Linked DNA regions of Homo sapiens. The protein of the gene in region 1 purifies or fractionates together with the protein of each later gene. This does not show direct contact. Each region holds a gene or a part of one and is shown in the gene's direction. Other genes may lie near its edges.

Region 1 (4,148 bases):
CCTCCGCTTCCCGAGTAGCTGGGATTACAGGTGGGCACCACCATGCCCAGCTAATTTTTGTATTTTTAGTAGAGATGGGGTTTCACCATGTTGGCCAGGCTTGTCTCGAACTCCTGACCTCAAGTGATCAGTAGGGCAGGTTATTAAAAGATATATATATAGGGGGCAATTGTTTGGGCTTTGAGCTTAGACTAGTAGTTCCAAAATCTGTCTGTACATTGGAATCACCTTGGAAACTGAAAAACCTGCTCATGTCCCTTTCCCTCTCCTTTGTGATTTAATTGGACTGGGTGTGGCCCAGGGTTCGGAATGTTTAAAAGATCCCTGGGCAGTTCTGATGTGCAGATGATTCTGGGAACTTTAGTGGCTTAGGCCACTCTGTATATTAGGAAAGATTTTTTAGCACCAGAGTGACATGATCTGATTTATGTTTTAGGGCAATAATTGGTGTAGGAAAAGAGAGTGGAAATAGGGCAACCTACTTATTCACATTTCAGATGAGTTGTTCTTTAGGATCCCTTCACAACCACTTTCTTGTTCTCAAGTTCAGGTTTAATGCCTCCTGTGAGTTTGTTTTTGTTTTGTTTTTCCTTGAGACAAGAGTCTGTTGCCCAGGCTGGAGTGCAGTGGCACCATCTCGGCTCACTACAGCCTCCACCCCGAGTTCAAGGGATTCTCCTGCCTCAGCCTACTGAGTACAGGTGCCCACCACTACGCCTGGCTAATTTTTGTATTTTTAGTAGAGGTGGGGTTTCACCATGTTGGCCAGCCTGGTCTTGAACTCCTGACCTCAAGTGATCTTTTTGAGATGGAGTTTCACTCTTGTTGCCCAGGCTGGAGTGCAGTGGCGCAACCTTGGCTTACTGCAATCTCCGCCCCCAGGGTTCAAGCAATTCTCCTGCCTCAGCCTTCCGAGTAGCTGGGATTACAGGCATACACCACCATGCCCGGCTAATTTTGTATTTTTAGTAGAGACAGGGTTTCTCCATGTTGGTCAGGCTGGTCTCAAACTCCTGACCTCAGGTGATCCGCCCACCTCGGCCTCCCACAGTGCTGGAATTACAGGTGTGAGCCACCAGCCTGACAGGATGGAACTTTAAGTAAGAGAATCACCTTAAGAATCACCCCTAGTGATTCTGTTCTTACTGAAAATGGCTCTCCCCAGTTGAGGTCTCTGAAATGCCCCATTAGTTGAGAATCATTGCTGTAGGGAGACATGTTCTTCAGGTACTGTATCATATCCCTCAGGTGTGTTGTGGTAGAGTAGATTTGAGAACATAACTTTGACTATAAACTCTCCAAGAGCAAGGGCCATGTAATTAATTGCTTTTTTATTTCCCCAATTTTTTTTTTTTGAGACAAGAGTCTCACTCTGTTGCCCAGGCTGGAGTGCAGTGGTGCAATCTCAGCTCACTGCAACCTCCACCTCCTAGGTTCAAACACTTCTCCTGCCTGCCTCCTGAGTAGCTGGGAGGGACTATAGGCGCCCGCCATCATGCCCAGCTAATTTTTGTATTTTTAGTAGAGACGGGGTTTCACCATATTGGTCAGGCTGGTCTCGAACTCCCGACCTCAGGTGATCCACCTGCCTCGGCTTCCCGAAGTGCTAGGATTACAGGCATGAGTCACTGTGCCCAGTCCTTTTTTTTTTTTTTTTTTTTTTCCTTTGAGTCAAGGTGTCACTCTGTTGTCCAGGCTGGAATGCAGTGGTAGGATCTCAGCTCACTGCAGCCATGAACTCCCAGGTTCAATTGATCCTCCCACCTCAGCCTCCTGAGTAGAGGGGACTACAGGCATGTACCACCATGCCTGGTTAATGTTTGTATTATTTGCAGAGACGGGGTTTTGCCGTGTTGCCCATGCTGAACAATATTTTTTTTCTTTTTTGAGACAGGGTCTTATTCTGTCACCCAGGCTGGAGTACACTGGTGCAAACACAGCACACTGCAGCCTCAGTCTCCCCTGGGCTCAAGTGATGCTCCCACCTCAGCCTCGTGAGTCGCTAGCACTACAGACACATATTACGAAGCCTGGCTAATTATTTTTATTTTTTGTAGAAACAGGGTTTTGCCATGTTGCCTAGGCTGGTCTCAAACTCCTGGGCTCAATCTGCTCACCTTGGGCTCCCAGGGTGGTGGGATTACAGGCATGAGCCACTGCACCCGGCCCACAGATTCTTATTGAGGCCTTTGTAAGTAGGCAGTTAATGCTCTATTGCCACCATTTCCCACTGTATTTTTTATAAATACCAATTGTTTGGTCAATCGACTTCTATTTATGAAACTGGAAAAGAATAATGATGATCCCAAATGTCTAACCTCATTGCTTGCCTTTATACAGAATCCTCACTATGGATGGGCTCATTGAGGACATTAAGCATCGGCGGTATTATGAGAAGCCATGCTGCCGGCGACAGAGGGAAAGCTATGAAAGGTGCCGGCGGATCTACAACATGGAAATGGCTCGCAAGATCAACTTCTTGATGCGAAAGAATCGGGCAGATCCGTGGCAGGGCTGCTGAGGCCTGTGGGTGGGACACCCAGTGCGAAACCCTCATCCAGTTTTCTCTCCATCTCTTTTCTTTGTACAATCCCATTTCCTATTACCATTCTCTGCAATAAACTCAAATCACATGTCTGCAAGAAGGCCTCCAAATATAGAAACAATCCCATTAGTCAGCAGTGGACCCTGTCTTTTATTAAGTGAAAGAAGAAACTGAGTCTGAAAGTACTCTAGGAGTAGAATGGTATTTGCCAGGGACTGGAGGAGGGGGCAGTGAGGAGTTATTGTTTAATGGGTACAGAGTTTCAGTTTGGGCAGATGAAAAAGTTCAGGAGACGATGGCCTGGCATGGTGGCTCACGCCTGTTATCCCAACACTTTGGGAGGCTGAGGCGGGCGGCTCACTTGAGGCCAGGAGTTTGAGACCAGCTTGGCCAATGTGGTGAAACCCCATCTCTACTAAAAATACAAAAAAAAATTGGCCGGGCGTGGTGGTGCACGCCTGTAATCCCAGATACTTGGGTGGCTGAGGCAGGAGAATTGCTTGAACTGGGGAGGAAGAGGTTGCAGTGAGCCAAGATCATGCCACTGCACTCCAACCTGGGCGACAGAGTGAGACTCCATCTCAAAACAAAAAAACGGAGATGGATGATGAATGGTGATGGCGGTTGCTCAAAAAGTTGAATGTACTTAATGCCACTGAACTATACCCTTAAATGGTCACGATGGTAAATTTTGTGTTTTACTACAATAAAAACTTTTTTGAAAGTCCAGGAGAAGTAAGGAATTTTTTTTTCTTTTTTTTAAGAGGAAGTCTCGCTCTTGTCCCCCAGACTGGAGTGCAATGGTGCAGTCTAGGCTCACTGCAACCTCCGCCTCCTGGGTTCAAGTGATTCTCCTGCCTCAGCCTCCCCAGAAGCTGGGACTACAGGCACCTGCCACCACGCCCAGCTAATTTTTGTATTTTTAGTAGAGACGGGGTTTCACCATGTTGTCCAGGCTGGTCTCGAACTCCTGACCTCAGGTGATCCGCCCACCTCGGCCTCCCAAAGTGCTGGGATTATGGGCATGAGCCACCATACCTGGCTGGTAAATTTTTTTTTTTTTTTTGTAGATGGAGTCTCGCTCTGTTGCCCAGGCTGGAGGGCAGTGGGACAATCTCAGCTCACTGCAAGCTCCGCCGCCTGGGTTCACGCCATTCTCCTGCCTCAGCCTCCCCAGCAGCTGGGACTACAGGCACACGCCGCCACGCCCGGCTAATTTTTGTGTTTTTAGTAGAGATGGGGTTTATCTGTGTTAGCCAGGATAGTCTCGATCTCCTGGTCTCGTGATCCCCCTGCCTTGGCCTCCCAAAGTGTTGGGATTACAGGCGTGAGCCACTGCGCCCGGCCGGAAAATTTTTTTAATGTAGTGAAATATGTCTACCATTTCCTACCCAATTTTTTTGAATCCCCAAGCAAAATCTTACTGAGAAAGCATCTATTACTTTTTATTAAACTGTTCCATGTTAGGTAGAGAGGAGAAGATGCATGTATGTATTTGGAATAAATTCTGCTTCTGAAAACACCTATCAACCAGACTAGAGTGCTGGAATCCTTGCCCAAAGAAATTCTTAAATCTACCCTAATGTTCATTCCTGTTTTCTGT
Region 2 (4,838 bases), on another chromosome or scaffold:
CTGAGTAAGTGTAAACATTTTAAATACCTGCGTTAGATTTGCCATCACCAGGCTAATTTTGCCATCTAGTGGTAGCAACATGGATAACAGGCAAGTTCTTCCCTGGATGACTAGGAATTGAACCTTCCTGAGAAGCATTGATGAGTAAATTACTTGTGTTTTCTCATTTGTGGTTTACTCTAGAACTTTAAAGCTGGAAGAAATCTTAGAAATGTTCTAGTCCAACTCAACAGTTAAGGACTATCAGAGAGATTCTTTAAAATAAAGGCTTCGAAATGCATGGCGGAGTTAGCAGGTGGTATGCATTTGTTGAATAGACAAATTTATCTATCCTGTTCTAATTCTTGTTTTTCCTCTAGCAATATTGCATCCTACCACTATGAAGTTTTATCGTGATCTTCTGTTTTTAGTTTTAAAATTGCATTTCTGTATATTATTTCTTAAAATAACACATTTTCATTTATATTTTAAGTCCCAGAAGGAAACATTCTTTTCTACTGTTTTTGTTTGTTTGCTTTGAGACAGGGTTGCCCTGTCTCATTCTAGTTGTCCAGGCTGGAGTGTAGTGACACAATCACAGCTCACTGCAGCGTCCACCTCCCAGCTTAGGTGATCCTCCCAACTCAGCCCAGAGTAGCTGGGACCACAGGCATGCGCCACCACACTTGTAGAGACAGGGTCTCCCTATGTTGCCCAGGCTACTCTCAAACTCCTGGACTCAAGTGATCCTCCCATCCCAGCCTCCCAAAGTGCTAGGATTACAGGTGTGAGGCACCGCGCCCGGCCCTTTTCTACTTTTTAATCACTCCCTACTACTACTACTTCTCTTTTCTTTTTTTTGACGGAGTCTCGCTCTGTTGCCCAGGCTGGAGTGCAATGGCGTGATCTCACCTCACTGCAACCTCTGCCTCCCGGTTCAGGGGATTCTCCTGCCTCAGCCTCCCCAGTAGCTGGGATTACAGGTACACAACAGCATGCCTGGCTAATTTTTGTATTTTTAGCAGAGACGGGGTTTCACCACGTTGGCCAGGCTGGTCTGGAACTCCTCACCTCAAGTGATCCGCCCACCTAGGCCTCCCAAACTGCTGGGATTACAGGTGTGAGCCACAGCCTCCGCCACTCCCTACTACTACTTTCTTTCTAAACAGTCAGGCAGACTGTTGTAAAAACTCGATTCTCACCTTTGTAAGTGTAGCAGTTTCCTACTGCTGCTGTAACAAATTACCGAAAACTCAGTGGTTTAAAACAACACAAATTTATTATCTTATGCATCTGGAGATCAGAAATCTAAAGTTTTGGCTGGGCACGGTGGCTCACGCCTGTAATCCCAGCACTTTGGGAGGCCGAGATGGGCGGATCACGAGGTCAGGAGATCGAGACCATCCTGGCCAACACGGTGACACCCCATCTCTACTAAAAATACAAAAAAAATTAGCCGGGCATGGTGGCGGGCGCCTGTAGTCCCAGCTACTGGGGAGGCTGAGGCTGAAGAATGGCGTGAACCTGGGAGGCGGAGCTTGCAGTGAGCCGAGATCACGCCATTGCACTCTAGCCTGGGCGACTGAGAGAGACTGCGTCTCAAAAAAAAAAAAAAAAAAAAGAAATCTGAAGTTGTATTGTGATCTTCTGTTTTTAGTTTTAAATTATATTTCTTCATATTTTTCTTAAAACAACACATTTTCATTTATGTTCCTCCTTCTGGAAGTTCTAGGAAATAATTTTCCTTACCTTTTTCAGCATCTAGAGGCCACTCATATTCCTCAGCTCATGATCCTGCATTGCTCTGGCCTCCGCTTACATCTATCAGCTCTTCCCACTCTTAACCCGTCTGCCTCCTTCTTATATGAGCCCCTATGATTGCATTGGACCCACCTGGATAACCCAGAATAACCACTTCACCTTAAAATCCTTAATGTAATCGTATTTGTAAAGTCTCTTTTCTTGTGTGTGGGAAATATTCACAGGTCCTGGGGATGAGGATATTTGGCATACCACAATGAGGCAGTTAGAGATGTATGAAATACCTTGTAAATATCTACCTGAGTGTTGGCTCCCCCTGTTTGATATGAAAAACATTGGCTTTAATCTTTGTGGAGTGCTTACTGTGCTCTGGGCATTGTGCTTATCATATTAGTTTCTCACAAAAATATTCTCAAATATTATCTCTATCTAATAAATGTGGGAAATAATGTCTAGAGAGATTAGGTAACCTTCACAAGATCACAGTGTAACAAGTGGCAAGTGTACTTAAGGTTGATTTGGCTTCAAAGCCCACTGCCCCCATAATCATTGAAACACCCTAGTTCTTACTCCCCTTTTTTATTACGTTACAGACACTGTTATTTTCTCATACACTCTCTAAATTAAATGTTACCTCCATGTAGTGCTGCTGTCAGGGAGCGCCTCAGTGGATCAGGAATTAGTTTTCATAAGATACCCCCTCTCCTCAGCATCTGTTCCCCCAAATAAAACTGACTATGAAAGTTTTTACAATTGTCATCCAAAACATCACCGCTTTCTTTAGTGCTTGCTTTATTCCTGTTTATGTCACTTGTAATTCTCCCCCTCTCCTGCTGTGGCCTTTTGCCTAAGCCATTTCTCTCTGCAGTTATTCAGAATCATCTGGCCAGGCCCCAGTGTCTCCCTGTTGTGTGTCAATCCTGAGTAGGTGGAGGATGAAAGTAGAGGAGGAAATGAGGGCATGTCTTCACATTTAGGTATGCATGTAAACAGAGCCAGTGGTGTTAGGAAGCACAGGTGGTTGGGATTGCAGATGGCTAAATAGAGGACAGCCAAGTTTTAAAAGGTGGTCATGCAATCATTGGTGTGTACTAACATACACACTAAAGTAGAGGGTGGTGTTGGCCCTATGGGGTCATTGATATGACTGAGTAATTCCTGACCCACAGCAGCCTCCCAGGAACTGTTTGATGGATCAATGCAAAGTTGTGTCCCATGGCAACATGCTATGTACATAAATATGGACAAGTACCTCACTAGACATTACAAGGAACCAGGTGAAAAGAAAGGCATAAGTAATTGTGAATCTGTCACCTAGTGAGGGAAAGCAATTCAATGCAGGTCCTTCAATGGTAAGTCAGCATCTTTGCTTTCTCATAGACAGGAAAAATAATTGATTTGAAATATTAATATAGTGGGCAGCCATCTAATCTTTCATTAGTTTGTCTGCTCTATCTAAGCTAGACTATAAACTTCTAGGGTAAAAAACAAAACACAAAAGAGAAACTGAGCCTTAAGGTATAATGTCATTTCATCATAGGATTCTATATACTCTAGATAGACTCACTCAAAAAGTTGTTTTTTTTTCATTGTAGATCACTCCCTTAGAGTAATTATGTTGACATAGACTCTGTTTCTTTTTAGGCTGAGGGTCTGATGCAGTTCCAAAATTCCCAGTGTAGATCCAGGCTATAAATAAGACACAGAAAATGCAATTTAAGTGTTTTGTGGCTGCATAGTGTTTAATCACACTTAAGTTTAATAGCAATGAGAAAAATATATTACAGAGCCATGGATATTCATAGAAATGAGTAATTAGGAAAGCATTCATTTGGGAAGTCTCTAAAGTGAAGCTGTCCTTGAACGAAAAACAAAACAAAGAAAAAGCGAATTTTAGAGTGAGTTGGAAACTATCTTGAAATAAAAATATTTGACTGTAAAACTGACTTTTTAGAAAACTACAAGATCTCTAATTTTGGCTTATATAACAACCTGTTTTGAAGTGATACAAATTCACCAATTAAGGTAGGATAATAATTATAAAATAACATGTGTTAACTACTTACTATCCTCTGGGCTCAGTAGTAATTCTTTGCGTGTATCATCTCATTTAATCTCCATAACAATGTTATGAAGTCGAAATTACTATAATATTATCCCCACTTTGCAGATGAGGAAAGTGAAACTTGGAGAGTTAATGAACTGCCCACATGCACATGCCTCATAAGTGGTGAAAAGGGAATTGAACCCAAGCCTTCCCACTCCTTGGTCTGCACTCATAACCACTATGCTGGTACAGATACACAAATATTCTCAACGCTGTCAGCAATCACATTTCTAAGAAACTATAAACAAATAACAAAAGGGTAATAGTAAGTGATCTCGTAGTCAAGTGTGGTCACTTCTATTAATAGATTGGGTACAAATGTGTAATTACATCTCTTCCATCAGTAAGAGTTCATCTACATACACAGATATTCTTACTTCTTCCTTAATTCCCTTCTACTCAATCTGTCTTCAGGATCCAGCCCATAATCAGCTGTGTGTATGCTGACTCACAGTGGTGGGCAGCAATCACTGCAACTTTGCTTTCATTAACCAAAATTGGAATTTGAAGCCCCAAATGCAAGCCATCTGGAAATGGACAGTGAAGGTCACAGTTATATTGGAAGACAGGAAAAATGAGGGGGATGGGGAAGCCAAGGGATGTTAGACTTTCAAAATATTATAGCTGCCCCTTCAACTGGGACTGTGTCTTTTTAGATCAATGAGTTAGTCCTTTTTGGATAATGGGCATATGTAGATGTCTCCACTGAACAAACTGTGGATTGCTCTATCAGTAAGAGCTATCATTTATGCCACATTGACATTTTACCACAAGACAAACTTAGATTTTCCAAAAGAAAGTGTCTTTAAACATTTGCCCAATTTTAAATTACAGGCCAAATTAGGCTAACTAAATCCATGTCCTCTTATTACTGTGATTCTGAGGTCATATTACAAAGCTCTGCCCTTCCCATACCCAAGGGTAGACGTGGGCATGGTTTTTATTCCTGTGGTACACTGCACAGAGCTCCCTCAAAGGGCACCAGGCAGGG
Region 3 (5,318 bases), about 130 Mb from region 1:
TTGCTGTGTGACCGTGGGCAGGTCCCACTCCCTTTCTGTGCTTCAGTCTCCCCTTCTGCAAAACGAGGACTGGATTGGGTGTTCTCTAAGGGCCCTCCCAACTCTAACAATGGACAGCTCCCTCCTGCCACTTCCCAGTAGAAGCTCAAACTAGTTCTAATCATGCGGTCAGCCAGAGAAATTGGGTTTATTAACACTGTGTGCAGGCAGTCATGTAGATGCGTCAGAACGTCGGACCTGGCCACATCATCATCTGCTGGTACAGAAGATAAATTTTGAGCCCAGAGAAGGTGGTCTGAATCCAGATCCCCACTGTAGGGCTTATGAGACCTTGGGGGTCTCACTCAATCTCTCTAAGTCTTTGTGGTCTCATCTACACATGGGCATCCTGATAGGACGCACTCCATAGGGATGTTGAGATGAGGCAGGATTTGAACTAAAGCCTGTTTGATCCCACAGCCTGACTCTGAATTAATGAGGCAAATTCTTTGCTTCAAAGCCAAAGCAAGCAAACAAAAAACAAACGCAAGATATCCAACCCACGAAACGCTCTATGTTCACGCCAGACTCCCATGCATGCACCCTTTGAGTGCTCCTTGTTGGGACCCATCCACCACCCCCCAGTTGCCTCATTAAAGGCAGAGCCTGGCACCAATGGCCCAGGTGCAACCACAGCTCTGAGGCCACATGGGCATCCCCCTGGCAGGCGTGGCCCACACCTGCACTGTCTGGTCTGACACCCAGAGGCCCTGGCAAGAGGCAGGTATCCTGGAGCATGCAGAGAACATCAACTTCCATGCCAGGAAGCTCATCTTCTCTTCCCAGCTCTGCCGCATTCTAGCTCTGGCACCTTGGGCAAGAGCTAGTCACTTTTACTCTCTGAGCCTCAATTTTCCTTCTGTAAAATGGGTTGTAATAATAAGCCCATATACACCTTGTATTGTAGCGAGATGTAGCTGTGATACAGTCTGGAAAGCACGTGTCATATAGACAGGCAGCTAATGAATCTCACACTCTGGAACTGGACACCTTTGGTTCCAATTCTGGCCCTACCACTCTCGAGCTGTGGAAGAACTGCACCTCTGTTTTCTCCTCTGTAAAATGGGTATAATAATGGCACCAACCTCAGAGGGCTGCTGTGAGGGTGAAATAAGGGGATAATGGTATGATCTAGTTCACGGGTTTGTCGTAATGAGCTATTCTATGTGAAGTGCAGGAAAACGTGCCTGGCATAGAGAATGTGAGCTGTCATGTGGGTGGCCCAGGTGGAGAGACTTGTCCCAAGCCTGGTTGGTCTTTGAACGTGTAGCCTGGCCTGTGACTGCTTACCTAAAATCTCCCCGCTTTTCCCACCTTCTCCTCTCTGATATGCCTGTTTGACATAGGTGAGATTGGATAGATCAAGGTGTTCAGGGCCTCTAGGCAGGGATGGGACTGTGGGCATGAGGACCAGGACCCAACCCCTCAGCCCCACTCTCCACCCCAGGCTTTCTGAGCCATCCATCCTTCCCAAGAAACTGACAGAGCCACCCTGCCACTGGTACCAGCATTGACACCCATCTAGAGGTCCGAGGGGCAGCCCCAGGGCAGAGGAGATTTTGAGAGCCCACACCCCTGACCTGAGTGGGGAGGGGTTGAGCCTCTGGGCCACAGACCGCAGGTGCTGACTCATGGCCTCTGCTGGGCGATATAAAGGAACCAGCCCAGGGGCTTCCTACAGCCAGAGGGACGAGCTAGCCCGACGATGGCCCAGGGGACATTGATCCGTGTGACCCCAGAGCAGCCCACCCATGCCGTGTGTGTGCTGGGCACCTTGACTCAGCTTGACATCTGCAGGTAAGAGGGGGGCCTTCTGGGGTTTTGGAGGCAGGTCAGGAGATGCTGGATGACCCAGTTCTACTGACACAGGAGCATGTGTTTGGCCCAGGCTCTAGGCTCCAGCCTCTGCAGCCACTGCCAGGGGAGTAGCTGGAGAGAGAAGACCCCAGCAGCCCTGGGAAGTGCCAGTCTCATGGCTGTGGGTTCTTTGCCATGTACAAGTGCAAATTCCCCAGGAACACACGACAGATAAATTATTATGGGGCAAACCAGGCCATCCATCTCCCTGTCTTCATCGAGGCAACAGAAGCTTACAGAGAGTCTGTGACTTGCTCAAGGTCACACAGCACGTGTGCCCTGGAAGTAAGGTTAGCCCCTGGGCCTCCTGGTTCACAGCACAGTTTGTTACCCCACATCTCTTAGCTAAGCCTCCCTCAGTGGGTGCATAATAGCGTGGGTGGGGATGGCGAAACGGGGCTCTGTGGCGGCAGAGACTGAGGTAGGAAGCCTGGACCTGCTGCTGGCTAGCAAGGAGGCCTTGGGCAACTGAGCCTCAGTTGCCTCATCTGTGAAATGGGGATAATACTCACATCATGGGCTGGTTATAGGAATTCAATGTGAAAAAATGTGCAGATGTTGGCTGAGTACTTAGCACAGTGGTGGGCCCATCCTTGGTAGTTTTTATTTACTCATTTAACAAATGCTGAGTGCCATGCTCTGTGGCAGGGTCTGGGTTAAACAAGAGAGTTGAGGAATGCTCTCGGGGAGTGTGCAGGGTCATTGTTGTTATTGTAGAACAGGAATTAAAAGAAATTTTAAAACGTGTAAGCAAAAACTCAGTTCTATGTTAAAAAAAAAAAAAACAATTTTCCCTGGAAAAAAAAAAAAAAAAGAGCTGGAGTCCCTTAAAAATTAACTGCCTGTTTTTTTGTGGCTAGTGAGCCTTATTGCTCCTCTTTTTCCAGGCATTGTAAAGACCCTGTTTCTCCAGCTGTGCAGCTGCAAGGTCACTAGACAGATAAACTCAAGCTGTAAAAATTTTTTTCCTTAAAAAGTAAAAAATAATATAATGCATGTCTCAATTAAATAACTGTCTTTGTTTCTTGCCTCTATAATATGCTTCCCCCTGCACAGATCTACCCCCGCCCCATGAAATGCTTAAAAGATAACTTAACTCTTTGTTCAGGGCTCAGTCTTTTGAAATGTTAGCCTGACTGAGCCAGTGAATCTAAATAATAAATCCTCCTCAACCCCTCGGTCTCTCTGATTCCTAAATTATCCTGCAACAATTGCTGTTGTCAGGAATAGGAGTGGTTGCCCCTGGCTTCCCCATCCCAGTCTGGGCATCGGTGGCCCTAGAATGGTGCCCACAGGAGTGCCGGGGACATTTCTTTGCTACTGCCTGAGCCCCAGCAGCCAGAGAACAGCAGGAAATGTCGGGATGGTCTCCCAGGGCCACATGGTGGAGGCAGGAGACCAAGAAGTTGGGGAGAAAAGGAAAAAGAAAATCACCTGACATCATCTGAGGCGCCCCCAACTCCTCTGAGAATGGGTGTGAAGGAAATGACAGGAGCTGAAGCTAGCCCAGGGCCTCTCCCAGCATGCCCAGGCTAGCCCTCTACCCAGCGTCCATGAGTAGTAATCAAGATCACAAGTGCTTCCTCTGGCCCTAGAGAGGTGGGTGGACAGCTGGTCAGTGTTGGGCAGAGAGGAAGGCACTGCCCATTTCTCCCAGAAAGGATGGGGACTCCGGAGTTCACAGGGGCCTCTAAATCCTTCTTTTCTCCTCCTTCAGCCACACGTTGAGCCTGTCACTCTATCCCCTGAACATCTCACGTAACAATGGCTAATATTTACATCACACTTCCTACATTCAACTCATTCAATGGCCTTGGGAGGCAGGTAATGTTGTTATTCCCATTTTACAAAAGAGGAAACAGAGGCTCCAAGAAGTTAAGTAACCCACCTCAAGCCACACAGCTAATAAGTAGGGGAGCCAGGACTCAACCCAGGCAGCCTGACTCTAGGACCCTCCATTCTCCCCATGGGTCTCCGTTCCAGACCTTCCTGTCACTTCTTATCTGTTCTTAACATAGCCCCAGACAGCGCCTCCCTCCCATCTCCTGAGCAGCCATCGGCCTCTTCCTGAACCACACAGGTGGGAGGGCCACTCCCTCCTCACCTCCGCCCCTCATATTCATGCCTCCATAACTTTGCTCAAGCCATTCTCTCTGTCCCCAAAGTCAGGAACCCGGGAGGCAGAGGTTGCAGTGAGCCAAGATTGGGCTAGTGCACTCCAGCCTGGGTGACAGAGTAAGACTCTGTCTCAAAAAAAAAGAGGCAAAAACACCTAACCGAGGGTCACATAAATTAAAGGTGGCAAGCTGGGCACGGTGGCTTATGCCTGTAATCCCAGCACTTTGAGAGGCCAAGATGGGCAAATCACTTGTGGTCAGAATTTCGAGACCAGCCTGGCCAACATGGGGAAACCCCGTCTCTACTAAAAATACAAAAAAATTAGACGGGGCGCAATGGCTCACATCTGTAATCCCAGCACTTTGGGAGGCCGAGGCAGGCGGATCACAAGGTCAGGAGATCGAGACCATCCTGGCTAACATGGTGAAACGCCGTCTCTACTAAAAATACAAAAATTAGCCGGGCGTGGTAGCACGCAGCTATAGTCCCAGCTACTTGGGAGGCTGAGGCAGGAGAATCGCTTGAACCCAGGAGGCGGACGCTGCAGTGAACCGAGATTGTGCCACTGAACTCCAGCCTGGGCAACACAGTGAGTCTCCGTCTCAAAAAAAAAAAAAAAAATTAGATGGGAGTAGTGGCACATGCCTGTAATCTCAACTACTCAGGAGGCTGAGGCACAAGAGTTGCTTGAACCTGGGAGGTGGAGGTTGCAGTGAGGCAAGATTGCACCACTGCACTCCAGCAAGGGCAACAGAGTGAGACTCTGTCTCAAAAAAAAAAAAGTTAAAGGTGGCAAAGCCAGGACTGTCTGACCCTAAACCCACCCTGCTTCGCAGCCCACCCTGCCTCCAAATGCTGGGGAGTGGACTCCCCTGGGCACTGCTCCCTGTGGGCAGAGCTCATTCAACTTCCAAAGGATTTGGTAAAGGCCTAGAAGGGGTGGGGGTCCAGGAGGTGCCAACTGCAAAGGGCAGTGTGCATTCAGAAGCTGCCATCTATGGTCTCTCTTCTTCCTCCCAAAGTCTCCTTCTTCTTTTTTTTTTTTTTAAAAACGGAGTCTCGCTCTGTCCAGCCCAGGCTGGAGTGCAGTGGCAAGATCTTGGCTCACCGCAAGCTCCACCTCCCGGGTTCACGCAATTCTCCTGCCTCAGCCTCCCCAGTAGCTGGGACTACAGGCGCCTGCCACCATGCCTGGCTAATTTTTTTGTATTTTCAGTAGAGACGGTGTTTCACCGTGTTAGCCAGGATGGTCTCGATCTCCTGACCTCGTGATCCACCCGCCTCGGCCTCCCAAAGTGCTGGGA

The links. Proteins that work in one complex are often made in the same cells at the same time.
Region 2: the proteins of MRPS21 (region 1) and PRSS35 purify together in Homo sapiens (co-immunoprecipitation; one large-scale study listed by IntAct). This does not show direct contact.
Region 3: the proteins of MRPS21 (region 1) and PADI4 purify together in Homo sapiens (affinity purification with mass spectrometry; one large-scale study listed by BioGRID and IntAct). This does not show direct contact.

The regions. Positions count from the first base shown.
Region 1 is NC_000001.11:150,305,708-150,309,855, forward strand, and holds the end of MRPS21 (small ribosomal subunit protein bS21m), read left to right. Parts: intron 1-2,340; coding exon 2,341-2,521; 3' UTR 2,522-3,272; downstream 3,273-4,148.
Region 2 is NC_000006.12:83,514,996-83,519,833, forward strand, and holds part of PRSS35 (inactive serine protease 35 precursor), read left to right. Parts: intron 1-4,838.
Region 3 is NC_000001.11:17,306,479-17,311,796, forward strand, and holds the start of PADI4 (protein-arginine deiminase type-4), read left to right. Parts: upstream 1-1,718; 5' UTR 1,719-1,744; coding exon 1,745-1,836; intron 1,837-5,318. UniProt on the Homo sapiens protein: Catalyzes the citrullination/deimination of arginine residues of proteins such as histones, thereby playing a key role in histone code and regulation of stem cell maintenance.